Regions from separate parts of the Homo sapiens genome. Here regions 2, 3, 4 and 5 are each reported to be linked to region 1. The links are microRNA targets in miRTarBase. Many come from high-throughput screens and were not tested one by one. Region 1 holds a microRNA gene; each other region holds the end of a gene's coding sequence. Distances are from middle to middle.

The links. The annotated mature microRNA hsa-miR-670-3p reads UUUCCUCAUAUUCAUUCAGGA and lies in region 1 at 1,664-1,684, shown strand. An mRNA with a match to its seed (bases 2 to 7 or 8) in the 3' UTR can be bound and repressed. Matches are read on the target gene's strand: a 7mer-m8 pairs with bases 2 to 8, a 7mer-A1 pairs with bases 2 to 7 and ends in A, and an 8mer does both.
Region 2: the mRNA of ENDOD1 is a reported target of hsa-miR-670-3p. The part of its 3' UTR that is shown has no 7-base or 8-base seed match.
Region 3: miRTarBase lists C1QTNF3 as a target of hsa-miR-670-3p. Seed matches in the 3' UTR shown: 7mer-m8 at 2,523-2,529.
Region 4: miRTarBase lists CAPN6 as a target of hsa-miR-670-3p. Seed matches in the 3' UTR shown: 7mer-m8 at 617-623 and 7mer-A1 at 1,106-1,112.
Region 5: miRTarBase lists BUD23 as a target of hsa-miR-670-3p. Seed matches in the 3' UTR shown: 7mer-A1 at 2,431-2,437.

Annotation. Positions count from the first base shown.
Region 1 is chr11:43,558,051-43,561,302 of GRCh38, forward strand. It overlaps MIR670 (microRNA 670), which reads left to right and starts at 1,606; the gene lies at 1,606-1,703. It also overlaps a transcript of HSD17B12 not described here.
Region 2 is chr11:95,129,014-95,132,013 of GRCh38, reverse strand. ENDOD1 (endonuclease domain containing 1) reads right to left here. Exons shown (of 2, transcript NM_015036.3): 2 at 1-3,000. The coding sequence ends at 2,435. Among named protein-coding and RNA genes, the nearest start is that of LNCRNA-IUR, 20 kb to the left of the region's middle.
Region 3 is chr5:34,017,992-34,020,991 of GRCh38, forward strand. It overlaps C1QTNF3 (C1q and TNF related 3), which reads right to left. Exons shown (of 6, transcript NM_181435.6): 6 at 1-2,751. The coding sequence ends at 2,592. C1QTNF3-AMACR (C1QTNF3-AMACR readthrough (NMD candidate)) reads right to left here. Exons shown (of 9, transcript NR_037951.1): 6 at 2,596-2,751. Among named protein-coding and RNA genes, the nearest start is that of AMACR, 11 kb to the left of the region's middle.
Region 4 is chrX:111,243,826-111,246,825 of GRCh38, reverse strand. CAPN6 (calpain 6) reads left to right here. Exons shown (of 13, transcript NM_014289.4): 13 at 67-1,727. The coding sequence ends at 249. Among named protein-coding and RNA genes, the nearest start is that of CAPN6, 25 kb to the left of the region's middle. RefSeq lists an enhancer at 1-586.
Region 5 is chr7:73,697,571-73,700,570 of GRCh38, reverse strand. It overlaps BUD23 (BUD23 rRNA methyltransferase and ribosome maturation factor), which reads right to left. Exons shown (of 12, transcript NM_017528.5): 11 at 2,877-2,966; 12 at 2,359-2,739. The coding sequence ends at 2,685. STX1A (syntaxin 1A) reads left to right here. Exons shown (of 10, transcript NM_004603.4): 10 at 87-1,361. The coding sequence ends at 164. Among named protein-coding and RNA genes, the nearest start is that of MIR4284, 12 kb to the left of the region's middle. RefSeq lists an enhancer at 695-1,196.

The DNA of each region.
Region 1 (3,252 bases):
CACAAAGCGAGGTGGTTATCAACAAGTGTTTCTCCTGAGAAGATTAGTTTTGACAGGGACTTCAAGGGGTTTTTTAATCTGGGTAAATCCACCAGGGCTTTATTGTGTGTAGCAAAGAGAGTCATTCTTTGTTAGGAAGGAGCTTGGGGAAGAGAGGTGGAGGGGTGGAGAGAGGGGGCTTTTGAACATCAGCCATTTGACCTTGGGGGCCAGAGTTCAAATCCCCCAGAGGTCTGAAAAGGTTGAAAAGATATCATTATCCCTTCTCCCTCCCCCGCGTCTTTCACCCAGAGCTTTATGTTTAACGGGGAAAATCCAGCGCCTGGTGTTGGCCAAACCTCATCAATGGGAATTCCATGTGTCTGAGAGCAGGATTTTTTTTTTCATCGAGGGAAGCAGGCAGCACTCTCAGCTGTAGTACTGTACATTTTTTTCCCCCTGCAAATCATCTTCTAGGAAAGCTGAATCACCTCCACTCTGAAGAGCAGCCACTTCTGGGAGGTGGAACACAGGGGGAGGAGGGAATACCCCCTCCTCCATGGTCCTTAAATATCCGTGTGGGGGCACTACTTGAATGTCTGGTTCAGATGAGCCTGGAAATATGACGAGGGTTCTTTGGACTGGGCTGGTAGTTGAGAAGACCATCTGAGCGGGGATGTAATTCTGAAGGAGTAAGGTAGTGGCTTTTTCTTTTGCGCTGGGGGTGCGGGGGCGGAGGGGTGCAGCTGGCTGGGTCATCAAATTAACATGAGAAGGGAATCGTTTTCAGCAGGGAAGTAGGAGATTTGGGGAGGGTGCTTGGAAGATAGAATCAGCATGCTATTGCCACCCCCCACCCCAAATAACCAAAAGGCAAGGAGTACAGACATAGAAATGGGAAGTGAAATGTTGGTATAGACTGTGATTAAGCCTGCTGTTGGTATGAAGTGCTGTCTCACTAAATAAAGCAGAGTGGATGGTGGCTGCATCCCTGGATCTGCCGGTGTGAAGTAAAACCAGGTCAGCTGGCCTGACACCCACTGTCCATATCACTGAAGGTCCTGCTCCAAGAAGGGGGATGGAGAGTCTTCCACAGCCCGGAAAGCATCAGGTTTCTTTGTGTTGCACTTCTCAGAAGGAAATTGTTTCTGTTTATTGCTTAAGTCAACAAGTATTTGTCTCCCTTTGATATAAATGCTGTGGGGGAAGTGGTTACAAGAAAAAAAAATCTGGTCCTGGAATTATAGCCATCTGCTCTCCACAGTCCTCCAAGACTGTCAGTATCTCTCTTTACTCTGAGCTGTGGTCTTCTAGGGACCAAGTTCCAGAAGAATAGCACCTAAAAAGTATTTCATGTCCATCAGCCTTCCCCGGAGATCCATGGAAAGACCACCTCTCTCAGGTTCTACCAGGTGCCCAAGCACTTGTCACATGCAGACATGTATGTGCAGTGTACATGCACATATATGTGCAAAAACCACAACAGTATGCATGTGGGTACCCAGGGTTCTCTCCACATGAGAACCCACGAGAGCCCACGTCAGCTCATGAGCCACATACACAAGGAAACAGACCTTCTTCCTCTCTGTCAAGTCCGAAGATGCCAGCTGAGACGTTCTTCATCCAGTTTAGGGGTGGACCTGATGTCCCTGAGTGTATGTGGTGAACCTGAATTTGCCTTGGGTTTCCTCATATTCATTCAGGAGTGTCAGTTGCCCCTTCACGCGACGTTGGAGAGCATTACAGCAAGCAGGTGTCTACTCATTTATGGCAAGAATGAAGTCCGACTTTTATCTTCATCACCTTGGATGAGCCCTGGTGCTTGCCCTGTTTCTCAAAAGAAACCTAAGGGCAGGGGCAGAACTGGTTATAGAATTCATGGAACCTGGCACAAAATGAACACGTAGGGCCCCTTGTTCAAAAAGCAGGAAGAAAGTGCCTAAATATAATGCCTTTGTCTTTCTTCCACAATCTCTCTCTAGAATCGTCATGGTGGTTTTTTATTTGCTGTTTTTCATGTGGTGCTAAATAAAAATAAAAATTTTAAATTTTTAGCATGAATTTTACCGTTCATCTTTATATTGTGTGATGCCAGTTGTAAATGTAAACACAAGAGCGTTTAACTCATTTGTAGAATCACTGAAATTACACAATTCACATTTCATATGTCGCATATGCATAGGTATTTCATTCTTACCAGAACAATGGAGATGCTGACAAAATGAACTCCAGTGTTTTTATTTCACTTCTTGATACAAGCGCTTTGTACCAGCACTCTCCACCTTCAGCTTGCTGTTGAGGAGAAATAGCTATGGATTGCTCTATCTTCACCTTTCCTTCTGTGTCAACATTTTCAGCATAGGTGTTTGGCAAATACAGGGAAGGAACATAAGTAAGAAATGCTACTTTAGGGTCCCTTAGGCATTAGTGTTTCTTAGAACTCTATTGCCTTCCTTCTGCATTTGAAGCATCTGGTTCAAACAGAAAGCATGACCTCTGGGCACTGTCTGTGTCCCCCGTCTGTGTAGTCATAGGCTTACTTTCCATTCTACTTGCCCCGAGTCTCACTGAGCTCCCACTGGAATTCTGTACGCATGGGCTACTGCCAACATTGTGGGACAGGAACGATGGATGGGCACACACATTCTCTATTATCCCATAGACTTCACTTACAAAACACGGGTTCAAAGACAAAATTTTTAAGAATTTCAAGACAATAACAGTAGAATCTTAAACCAACCATGGAGCTCTTCTGAGCCAAGGGCCCTGCAACTACACAAGTTGCACGCTCCTGAAGTCAATCCAGGTGGGAGGAAGTAAGAAGTAACCTAGACTTCAGGCTGAGAACCCTATTACTCATCTTCCTTCGTCAAGCGAATAATTGAATCCGCAGCAAAAAAAAACTTGAACGGCCTCCATTTTTGACCCATTGGGACTTTCTTCTCCTCTAAGCAAGTCCCACTCTGTGAAAATCCACCACTTCCTGGTGACGCTATCACAGCTTTGAGGGGAGAATTCATCTGCTGATCTCTTCACTGAAGCCGTGGCTTAGAGCCCAAGCCTTGCAGATGAAGCATGGGTTCCAATCCCCACCCACCACTTTCAAGCTTGGTCCCATCCAGGAGATACCCTGACTGATCTGTACTTAGGTTTCACCACCTGAAAGTAATAAAATATATTTGGTTTGATTCATGAATAATTGTGCTAATTATTTAGTGCTGCTTCTTGTTTGTCTCACAACTGCTCTGAGGTCTGCCCAGGGGTCTCCTGGCC
Region 2 (3,000 bases), 52 Mb from region 1:
CACGTCCAATGCAGATGGTTCTAGAGACCCACAGGCACAGCCACACTAGTAGCTCAGGGCAGTGGGTCTCAGCCACCTATCCTTACTGATACTTTTTGCTTTATTGTCCCTTTTTAGGTTTCAAAACTGGCCACCCAAGAATAAATAGACACTAAACAATTGGATGTGAAAAAGAAAGACATTCCCCAATGGTTCTCAAGAAGCCGTTTGGATGCTGTGCTCCTTACATGGTGCTAAGGGGCTCAAGCTGCCGTGGATGCCCTTTTCGGACCTTTCAGTATGCAAATATGTGCTAGGAGGGAATTAAGTTTCCATGGGATGCAGTAAGCATAATGTTGTACATGGATGGCTAATTGTTTTCATCACACATGCCAAATCCAACTGCTTTGTCAGGGCCTGGAGTCTGTTTGATGAATGAGGAAATCTTGCCATGGTCCAGAGAGGCAACTGAATAATAGCACGAACTTCCCATGTCTGACATCTCAGGTGTGATGGGACATGTGCAAACAACGTTGGCTCCTAATCTGCTCTCAGCTAGCCATGAAACTAAGGGCTAGCCTGTTGCCTCCCAGGGCCTTGGGTTCCTTATCAAATAATAGTTTGGCTGGACTGTCCCTCTGGTCACTTCTAAAATTCCTTTTCTTTATCCAGCAGGATTCTTGACCAATCAGTACCAAGTCAAACCCTCACCCTTCCATTTACCTTCACACTGCTGAAATAAAGGGACATCCAAACTTTATGCTCCCTAAGACAAGAGTTGGTAAAATACTGCTTTAAGTTTCTTAGCTAAGCCTGGTGCACATCTCCCTAGCATGGACCCATGCGGTGCTCATACTCCCTAACCTTGCATCACAAATTGATCAGGATGGCAGCTTGCTGGCTGCTGTTCTACTCTGGGTGTGCCTCCGCTATTTTTCTGCAAAATGTAACTCTTGCTACGCTCATGTTTCTCATCCATCGACCCCATGCAAATGGTTGACATATTGTTCTCTCCTTGTTGGGACCCCGAATTTTTGCATATAACTTTCTGATTGATCCTGGGCGGTAGCCCCAAGATCAGTATTTCATACTTGGCTGTTTCTACCTCTCAGCAATTCTTTAAAACATTCAGAAAAATCCAGGTGATTCCATCCCAATTGTGGGAAGCAAAGTTTGGTCCCTCTTGTTACCATTTTTTAGTGCAAGATTTAAAATGACAAGTGCTTGATCAAAAAAATTTTGAGAATGAGCTCTCACATTTAATTTGTATTAATGGGGGAGTTATGTTTGTAGCCTCAAACACACTGTAAAAATAATTTCCTAAGATATAATTATTCTTAAATATTTTATATATTTTTTTCAGAGATGGCCACAATAACTTTTATCTTTATTTTGTGGCTCTTTTCTATATAGTTGTATCAAAACAACCATTTAGGGACATAAGTCAGAGTATTTTTACTGTGCTGGGTACTTATTTCATGCATTAGAAAAATCTACTATGTTGCAGAATATGAATTTTCATGTTAGCTTAACATATAGATCTTTCAGTTCAACCTTGTCAGGCAGGGATACACGTCAAGTTAATCCAAGCTGGACAAAAGATGTCCTTGGATCTGCAGCACCTACTAAGAGCAGGGCTGTCCACCTTCTCTTCTCTTCTTTCCACCGGAGAGGACTGTATTATACCATTCAAGGGGCCCAAAAAAAAAAGAAAAGAAAACTTTGCCCTTCAATTCAAACTCTGTTATGCCACATTTGGCATAAAATGCTTACCATTACCTAAAAATGATTTTTTAAAAAATGCTTATCATTACCTAAAAGAAAAATGTAGCAAAATTCAACTTTGGAGGAAAATGAAAACTGTACATATCCTTGAGAACCACGGAAAGCTAAGAGATATAGAAAATTGTACATTCCCACAAAGTTATTTCAACAAAGAGGCATTATCTGCATTCCACCAAGGTCAGTCGAGTTGAGGAGAAAGAGAAGCAAATGCCAAGAAATTGGCTGCAGATTTTTTTTTTAATCTGTTTTGCCTTAAATCACAAAGAGCAATGGGAAGAACAAGCTCCCTTTCTCCTTTTCTCAGACACCTTTGGTCTAAAGTTGTTCTTTTTCTAGTTCTTCCCTCCCCTGTAATTTTTAATTATCAGAAATAAATACCAGTGCATTTCAGGTGGTCGTCTGTGTTAGAGTGCATAACTGAAGTTATTAGTGGCTTGGGAGTTTGCACATATAACTGGAGGTAAACAGCAGATTACTACACCTAATCTCACCCTGAGCATTTCTCCTCTGTCAAGTCTAAATTCTGCCATCTTCTTTTGCAAAAACAAGCAGACATCCCCACCAAAGGCCAAAATATAATGATAACTGACAGTGAACAGAAACCCATTGTAAAGACAAACTATTCCAGCTTTCAAATTCACTGTGACTGGATACTATTAGTTTTTTGAGTTTATAACTCCCCAGAATTGTCAAAAGTAACCTTGTAGCCAATCCGCTTGCAGACACTAAAAACCACCTGAAATAGGCCACCCAGGGTACCAAAAGCAGTGTCAAAGAGCAGTGAGACAGTGCCACCAAGGCCCAGTGCAATGTCCTTGCAAACAATTGGAATAGCGCCCATGGTGTACACAGGGAAAGTGGCCACATCCACAAGGACACGGACAGGGATGCTCAGAACTCGGCAAATGGCCTTCAGCAGACAACAAAGGATCCGGAGGAGAGCCCTGATGACTTTGGCCACGACCTTGAGCACCTTCCAGGGAATGCTCACCAACTCTTCCCCAATGGCCATGAAGTATGAGATGGTGGCTGAGCCCAGGCGGTAAAGGCAACTTTCTATGCCATTAATCACCTGCTTGGTAACACACCACAGGAAATAGACAATGTTCTTCAGGATTGCTACCACAAGGTAATAAATTAATTGAAAAAGCTTGATGAATGGGGTAGCAATGAAGCCCATGAGTTTTCCCAAAAAGCTACTACTTCCCTCAGATGCCTCTGGAGGCAACAGAGTAG
Region 3 (3,000 bases), not on the chromosome of region 1:
TGTCCTTAGTAGCATTTGAGAGTGTTCTTAATATGTTTAGTCCAACCCATTAGAGCAAGATACAAAAATATATAAAAAGCTAATTTCAAATTATTTTATTACTATATTTAAAAATAAAAGCCATAAATACATGCAGGAAAAGACTGAAATAAACACTTTAAAATAGTAATATTATTTAATATTTGATGGGATGATTAATTTTATACTAAATATTTTGGGGAATTTTATAAATTTTCTATAGTGAGTTTTTTAAATAAAAATATATATATTTAAATATAACACTTCAAACATACCAAAGCAAGAAATTGTCTCTGGCCATCAGATATTATCTTTTCCACAAGCTTTTCTTATGCTCTCAGCTAGATACTGTTTCTCTCTCCTGTGAATTCCTAGCCCTTTGCCTTCTATGGCTGTAAAAACATTCTACTTTATGTTTTGTTATCCATGTACTTATTCCCTTTAGCCTATTGTCCTCTACTAGGTTGAAAAATTAGGGAAGGTAAGAATTGTACTTTAAATGCCATAGGAGTGCCTGGAATAGCACAGTATCTTGCATAAAGTAAATGTTTATGAATTCCAGCCACATCATTTGGAGTTTACATTTGCATATTCCATCCTCTGAATTATTTTTTTACATTTTAATTTTGACTTCAGCTTTTATTCATGATACAATCAATAAAATTCCTTCAATATAATCTCTTTGTTGTCCAAGGGTCAAATATAATGTTTTCTACACTGGAAAATTACCAAGGCTGATCATTATGTGAAACAGTTCTACACCATATTACATCCCTGAAGCAAGCAGAAACTCAAGTGCTTCGTTTGCAGAGTTGTTTTAAGATTTAGAATTTGCGGCTGGGTGCGGGGGCTCACGCCTGTAATCCCAGCACTTTGGAAGACCGAGGCAGGCAGATCACCTGAGGTCAGGAGTTCCAGACCGGCCTGGTCAACATGGTGAAACCCCATCTCTATTAGAAACATTAAAAATTAGCTGGTCCTGGTGGTGGGCGCCTGTAGTCCCAGCTACTCAGGAGGCTGAGGTAGGAGAGTCACTTGAACCCAGGAGGCGGAGGCTGCGGTGAGCTGAGATCATGCCACTGCACTCCAGCCTGGGCAGCAGCGTGAAACTGTCTCAAAAAAAAAAAAGATTTAGAATTTGCAAGTTTGTTTATTAGATGGTACATGTAAATTTCCTATGACACCTACCTACTGTTTCCTTTTTAGCATCTCAGTTTTGGGACACTTGTGAAATCAGTCTTCCAAGTATATTTCTGGTCATGGGTAAATTGTGAAGGCATTGGAAATTATCTGCACCTTTTCCCATCTCTGTTGTGAATCAATTTCCCACACACCTGGGACTTGTTGCCTACAACCAAACCTTGTGTGTCACTAAGGTGAAAACTTAGAATTTAAGCATGAACATTACAAAGACTTAAGGTATGTGATAAAAAACCTCTTTCCTTACAGGTATTCAGATTTTATTTGTGAGCCCTCTAAACATCAATGTCTTAAAGGGTTGACATTATAACAATGGAATAACTGAAAAGCGAAGTTTTCTGAAGTCATATGACCCTGCTGTGTGCCCAAGTCACCTATTCACATGGCTGTTCACATCATCTGCATGAAAATATTTTCACTTTCTGTTAACCATAGTGATTTACAATTCTATGACTATTAAAGTTTATTAAACACAAGTTTAGAAAGTATCTTTAACAAAGGTGTGTTTATTTCCATATATTGCTCATTACATTTTTCTTGCCACAGTTTTATCTAAAGCCAGGTCAAAATCTTTCTCTAAGGTATTTATTAATAGTGTATGTTCTTCAGATATAAAATCCCTCTGGTCAACATGCAACATTTGAATATCTATTGGCACTGTACCTCTATGAGATATTTATGACATTTGTTAATAGTGAACCTCAACCTCCTGACCCCACATCCGAAGTTGGGGGCGATGTGGGGGAACATACACAAAATTACAACCACATTACTGGTCAAGCACTTTATAGCTAAAATCTATTGACTTTAAAATAGCATTGTATGTGAATTCAGAGTTTTAATGTATTTTGTGGATCAAAAGGAAAGGGTCAAAGGCTAAGCTGAACACGGAGGGCACTAAATTAGCTAATAAGGCAGCTAGTGCCCCTGTTCTTGCCCCAGCCCTGTCATATCACTACATCCGATTCTCTCAAATGTTATAAAGAATAATGAACTTAAAACTTCAGGGGTTCCTGAAAACTGGTATTAAATTAAAAGCAGAGTAGTCAAAATTCTTTGCAAATGACTTCTGTGATAGAAAAAAATATTTCCAACCTGCGTCAGAGGAGAATTATCTTTTAGGTGCCAAGGAAAGAGTGATAAAGATGCTGAGTATATTAGTCAAGGTCATCTGAGAAGACTATTTTGTGGTTGATTCTTCTGAGCCCCTGAATTGTCCAACATTATTGGTGTACCTGTAGCGTGAACAACATTGCAACCAATAATTTTTTGAATACAGCAATGTAAAACCCTCAACTTTAATGTTCCTCAGATCGTAACAAATCAGCTCAGCTACAAGTCTTCCCCAAAGTGGAGCTATTCTAGTCATATATTTACTTAGTTTCAAAGAGCAGGAATCCTGCAAAGGTGGAGAAGCGTTGGTGGTCCCCATGGAGAGCGCCATTGCCCATTCGCAGCCAAACCTCATCCCCTTTGGCTAGCTTCAGCACAGCATGATTGCTGGATGTATCTGATTTGCCCTTCATTTCATAGCTGGAAAGAAAAAGAGGAACAAACTACTTAGTTTTTGCCATGAACAACCAGCTCTTCACCAAAGTCTGTGCTCCCCTTCTCTCCTTCCCACAGGTATAATCCTGCGGCTAAGTTCTCTAAACAGCCTGTGAGCAGAAATGACCTATGTACCACTTCTAAAGCTGGCTAGTAACACTCTCACAAAACCCCTCCCTGCTCCTTCTTATGACTGTCTGGAATGTTCATGACAATGACCAGAATGATCTTAGA
Region 4 (3,000 bases), not on the chromosome of region 1:
GTCACTGGGCAAAGGCTAATCTCACTGAGGGCTGCTCATCTTCACTCCCTTCGTTTGTCTTTCCAGGTCTGGAACAGCCGAAAATTCTGTGATCAGTTCTTGGGGCAGGTTACTCTGGATGCTGACCCCAGCGACTGCCGTGATCTGAAGTCTCTGTACCTGCGTAAGAAGGGTGGTCCAACTGCCAAAGTCAAGCAAGGCCACATCAGCTTCAAGGTTATTTCCAGCGATGATCTCACTGAGCTCTAAATCTGCAATCCCAGAGAATCCTGACAAAGCGTGCCACCCTTTTATTTTCCGTCAGGTGCCAGGTCTTAGTTAAGATTCACAATCTTTAGAAAGAATGAGATTCACAATAATTAACTCTTCCTCTCTTCTGATAAATTCCCCATACCTCCCAATCCAAGTAGCATCTGTAGCTACATAACCTATATACCTCCAGCAGCTGGACATGGGGAGGCGACAGTCCTATCTAGACATCATACACATTTGCCAAGAAAGGATCTCTGGGGCTTCCGGGGGTGAGATTCAAGTAGGACAATAACAAGAGGCTGGACACCCTACAGATGTCTTTGATGTTTTCAGTTGTTTGATATATCTCCCCTGTAGGGCATGTTGAGGAAGGAGGAGGGCTGATCAAGGCCAAGCTGGTCTAGCCTGACATCCTAGCTCCTGACTGAACACTATAGACTTCCCAGCAGCATTTCACCCAGCAGCCAGAGCCGGCTTTAAGTCCCCAACCCTTACAGACACCACTGCCACCACCACCAACCACGACCACCACCACCACCACCACTCACCACCATCATCACCTCCGGAAAGTGTAGTCCTGCCCTAACCCAAGTCACCCCCGACAGTAAATTTTACCTTCATGTTGAGAAAGCTTCCTGGTGCTTAATCAAGAGCTGGAGTTCAATGAGTCCTAGACAGTGAGAGGGGCCTGAGCTTCAGCTCAATGGAAGCCTGCTGTGTGCCACAAGACGGAAAAGTGGAAGAAGCTGCAGTGGGAGACAAAGCCTCGGTCCCCCACCCATCCACACACACCTACACTCACACACGCGCACATGGGCGCGCACGAACTACCATTCAGGCAGTCAGTGGGCAAGAGGAAAGATAAGTAAGTACCATACACACCTAAAAGATGAGAGAATTCATCCAGACATATTACAGCCAGTTTGGGGCCCCTGACTGCAATGTGAAACCTCTCGCTGCTGCTAGGTTTACAAACAAGCCCATTGTCCTGTGCCTCCTAATATCATTTGTACTGAAGACCCCATCTGGGGACTTGAGACTTTGGTCCCAGCCCAGACTCCTCAGACTTTTCTCTCAGTTGGGATGCTTCACTCGCTGGGGGTGTTTGTTTGCCCTCTCATTTTTCAGTACTTCTACAGAATTTTCTCTAGAGTCAGTCATTATGAAATGTACTTCCCTCCATCTTAACCTATCAACTTTCTGCCCCTCCTTCAAGGCCCAGTATAAATGCCACCTCCTCCATGAAGCCTTCCCTAATTCCACCCCAAACCCCCACCTTCAACAATATTTCAACGCTTCTGCAATGATGAAAAAGAAACATAGTTGTAGTACTTAGCCTACCTAGACCAGCAAGCATTCATTTTTAGCTCGCTCATTTTTTACCATGTTTTCCAGTCTGTTTAACTTCTGCAGTGCCTTCACTACACTGCCTTACATAAACCAAATCACAATAAAGTTCATATTCAGTACATTGATCAGTCTTGACTTGAATTGATGGCATGGGATGGATGGCAAGAGTGACCATCTGTTAAGACTTGTTTCAAAGCCACTGGAGGTGGGGGTTGAGGTACTTCATGAAATCTGAGCTCAGGTAAAAGTGTGATGGATTCAAAAGCCCTGGCTACACTCTGATGGTACAGTTCTTTGCATTCTGGGGTAGTTGGAAGAATGAAGAGGGGCCTTTATTTCATATTTAGGGACAGCTAGGTGCTATTCGGGGTTACTTGAGTTTGAAACTCCTATTTGGGATTGGACTCGAGGCCATAGGTACAGTAGCCAAATCTTTCAAGGGAAGATCTCTCAACAAGACAAAATACCAACTCCCCTTTCCCAGCATCTTCCTTAGAGCCGAAGGGATGTGTGAAGACTTCACTCATTTGCTTATACAACCTGCCATCTACCATCTTAGGGTAGGCAAAGGGGAAAATTCTTATTTTTCTTTCTGACATGAAAAAGTGCCTAACCAGGGGAGGGATCTCCAAAGGAGTAGCTCAGGAGAACAGTTCTCAAGTACAGCCCTCACTGTCTGTCCCTATAACACTAACCCAGAACACACTAGAGATTTACATGTTGTAGATTTTTGTTAGACATGAAATATCCCATGTGGATAATGCAGTCATTCCATATGGTCACCAGATGGCACTATGGTATTACAATTAAGCTCAAAGATGCTACTGCTTTTTTTTCCCCCCAAGGATGACAATTTTTCCCCAGACAAAAAAGGGTAGAATGCCCTCTTTCACCACTCATATTCAACATAGTATTGGAAGTTCTGGCCGGGACAATCAGGCAAGAGAAAGAAATAAAGGGTATTCAAACAGGAAGAGAGGATGTCAAATTGTCTCTGTTTGCAGATGACATGATTGTATATTTAGAAAACCCCATAGTCTCAGCTTAAAATCTCCTTAAGCTGATAAGCAACTTCAGCAAAGTCTCAGGATACAAAATCAGTGTGCAAAAATCACAAAGCACTCCTATACACCAATAACAGACAAGCAAAGAGCCAAATAATAAGTGAACTCCCATTCACAATTGCTACAAAGAGAATAAAATACCCAGGAATATAACTTACAAGAGACGTGAAGGACCTCTTTAAGGAGAACTACAAACCACTGCTCAAGGAAATAAGAGAGGACACAAACAAATGCAAAATAAAGCCATGCTCATGGATAGGAAGAATCAATATTGTGAAAATGGCCATACCGCCTGAAGTAATTTATAGACTGAATGCTATTCCCATCAAGCTAC
Region 5 (3,000 bases), not on the chromosome of region 1:
ACTGTCCAGTCCTCAGCCTTTGCCATAGTCCCACCCCACCTGCCGCCAACACTGTCTGAGGCCTCTCCTGCCCGCTTCCCATGCAGAAGAAAATCATGATCATCATCTGCTGTGTGATCCTGGGCATCGTCATCGCCTCCACTGTTGGGGGCATCTTCGCCTAGAAGCCACCCAAACTGCCACTCCACTCCAGGTGGGCCACTCCAAGGAGGCCCTGGCTGCTGCCACCTGGCTGGGCTGCCCTCCCAACCCCCGCCTCTGGCTCAGAGCACCCTCCCTCCCGGCCCCCATGCTCCCTTCTCTGCCATGGGCCCTCCGTCCCCGCCCCGTGTCGTGTGCATGATCTCTGTGAGTGTGCGTCTGTACGGGAAGAGGCAGAGGGAGGCAGCCAGCGGGGCGTGATGCAGTGTGCACAGCGAGGAGCAGACCCAGGCAGGGCCGCCAGGGTGACACAGGCCACCCTTCCTTGCCTTCAGTAACTCGGTGGGCCCAGGTTCTGCTCTTCCCTGGGGACCCTAACCTCGCCTCCAGCTGACCTGCCCTGTCCTCTCCAGCTGTCCCCACAAGCAGAGCCCTGAGGGGTGGGGACCAGCTGGCCACATGGTGCTGCTTTTCAGGTTAGGGGAGAGGTGGCCCTGAGGGACAGCCCAGCTCTGAGTCTCAGTCGCTGATCACTGCCAGGGAGGCTCAGGCTGCCATGGCTCCAGGCTCCCTCCCCTGCCTAGGGGCAAAGTCCATCGGGTCCTGGGCCTCAGCTTCCCTTCCCACATTCCTCCGGCCCCAGGAGCAACCCCTTGGGCTAGGTCTGACCCCAGGTGTCCCTCTGGAAGGGGCTGGCTGGTGCCCTATTTCCAGCCACCCCAGCAGCTAGGGAGGCAAAGCAGGCTGCAGTCAGTCCCTCAAGCCAGCGTTGCATGTTTGGGATGGTGGCTCCTGTTGTCTTGCGCTCTGGGAAGTCAGATGTCATTTCAGGCCTGCAGTCTCATCCTGCCCTTGCCATCCTCCCATCGATGTGCCACGTGGGTGTCACGTGTCCCAGATGCAGTATTCGGCAGCCAGCCGGGGAGGGCTACCTCCTCCTCCTCACCACCTTGGGGCTTCTCATGGGAAATGTGCCCCCGCCCCAGGACCCTCTCCCTTGTGGACAGGCAGGGAGATGCATGCGAGTGCATGCAGCAGGGGATGGGGCCGTGTCCGTGTGCCCCACCCTCCCTCGGCTTTACTCCTGCCCAGTGACTGTGACCACTGTCCGTGTTGCCTTCTTGAACAGCGATTCCCCCCAACCCCTTCACCAAAGGTCTTGGTACAACCAGCTGCCCATTTTGTGAAATTTTTATGTAGAATAAACATTTGTATCTGTACCAGGCCTCTGTTGTAGATTTCTTCCCCAGGTCTCCTGGGGGAAAACCTTAGGAGGGTTCTCACTATTGCCCAAGCTGGCCTCCCACCTCAGCCTCCCACAGAGCTGGGACCACAGGTTGTGCCTGGCCTGGCTGCTCTAGACTTCTTGCCATCTGCAGTGTCACAGTCTTAGAACCTGAGGATGAATGAATGTGGCACTAAGAGGAAGGGCTCAGAGGCGAGGATCCCAACTCAGCCTCAACCCCACCCTGGGCCTTCAACTTCCTCAGACCTGTCTCTGGCCGTGCAGTGGAAAACATCCAGGCCTTATTCCCTGAGAACAGGCCCAGAGGCCACTCTCAAGGCCTGGAATCTGACACCTGCAGGAAACCCCACTGCAGGGCTTAGATCCTCAGGCCCCAAGCCTCACCCCACTCCCAGACACCCAGCCCCTCGGGCCCCGGCACCCATTCCCTAATGTCTTAAGCTGCTGAACACCTAATCCAGCTCTGTACTGCAATGCCCAGGATCTTGCCCCTCTTCCCACATGGACCAAAAGGCTCAAGCAACCATTACACCTCCTCTCCTATCACAGCCAGCTGGACAGTCCCACACTACCCCAGAGCAGGACCTTCCCTTTCCAACCACTAGTGACGGGACAAGAGATCAGCCCAAGACATCCAAGCACTGGGCTGGTAGGCAGCTGACCGTGCAGCTCAGTGCCACAGTTCAAGCTGGGGCCGCTGGACTGGCAAGGCCTTCACAGGAAGGGAAAACGGACTGGCCAGCAGGCACCACGAACACATTTCATGTGGGCCCTCTTCCCAACTTTGCTTGGTGTGATTATGATACAGTTATATATAAGCCCTAAATTAAAGGACTCTGTGTTCCTTGCAAATGGAAAGAATGCTTTCATCTAAGTGTTTTAAATCTGATTCCTGCCTGGGGAGTCGAGCAGTAGCCCACCAGGAGGAACTGGAGTTTGGTGAGAATCACAGAGCTGGGAGATGCCAGAGCTCCACAAAAGGAAATTTTATTTCTTGCCTTTAAACAAAATAAGATGCTCTCAGAGCTTTTTTTTTTTTTTTTTTTCCTCCCTGGAAAGGAAGTTTCATTATGTTGCCCAGGCAGGTCTCAAACTCCTGGCCTCAAATGATCCTCCCACCTCAGCCTCCCAAGGTGCTGGGATTACAGGTGTGAGCCACCACGCCCGGCCCAGAGAACTTTTTTTTTACTGCAGAAAACATTTTTATAACTTTAGAACTTTTCTAAAATACTACTTTGTCAGCTGAACAATATAGAAAAGTGCAGAGGCAAGTGCCTTTCCAGAACCGCGTGGTGACTTAGAAGCGGGGCTTGCGCTTGCGGCCGGTGTACTGGGTGTCAGGTCTGACTTCCCTGTGCAGAAAAGGAATAGGACAGTCTCAGAAAAAAAAGATCAAAGCAGCCCTGGACCCTTCAAATAAAGGGAAGCTCTTCATGGCAATAGTCATCCACCCCCCACCCACCCTGCCAGCTCCCAGGCTGGCACTCACCTGCCCTGGCGCCTGTGCCGCTCCTTCTTCTCCAGCACCCATGCCCGACTCTTCCTCACCATTCCCCGCCTCGACATCCTTAATGGGAACCTGTGGCGGAGACACAGCTATGAGCTGATGGACA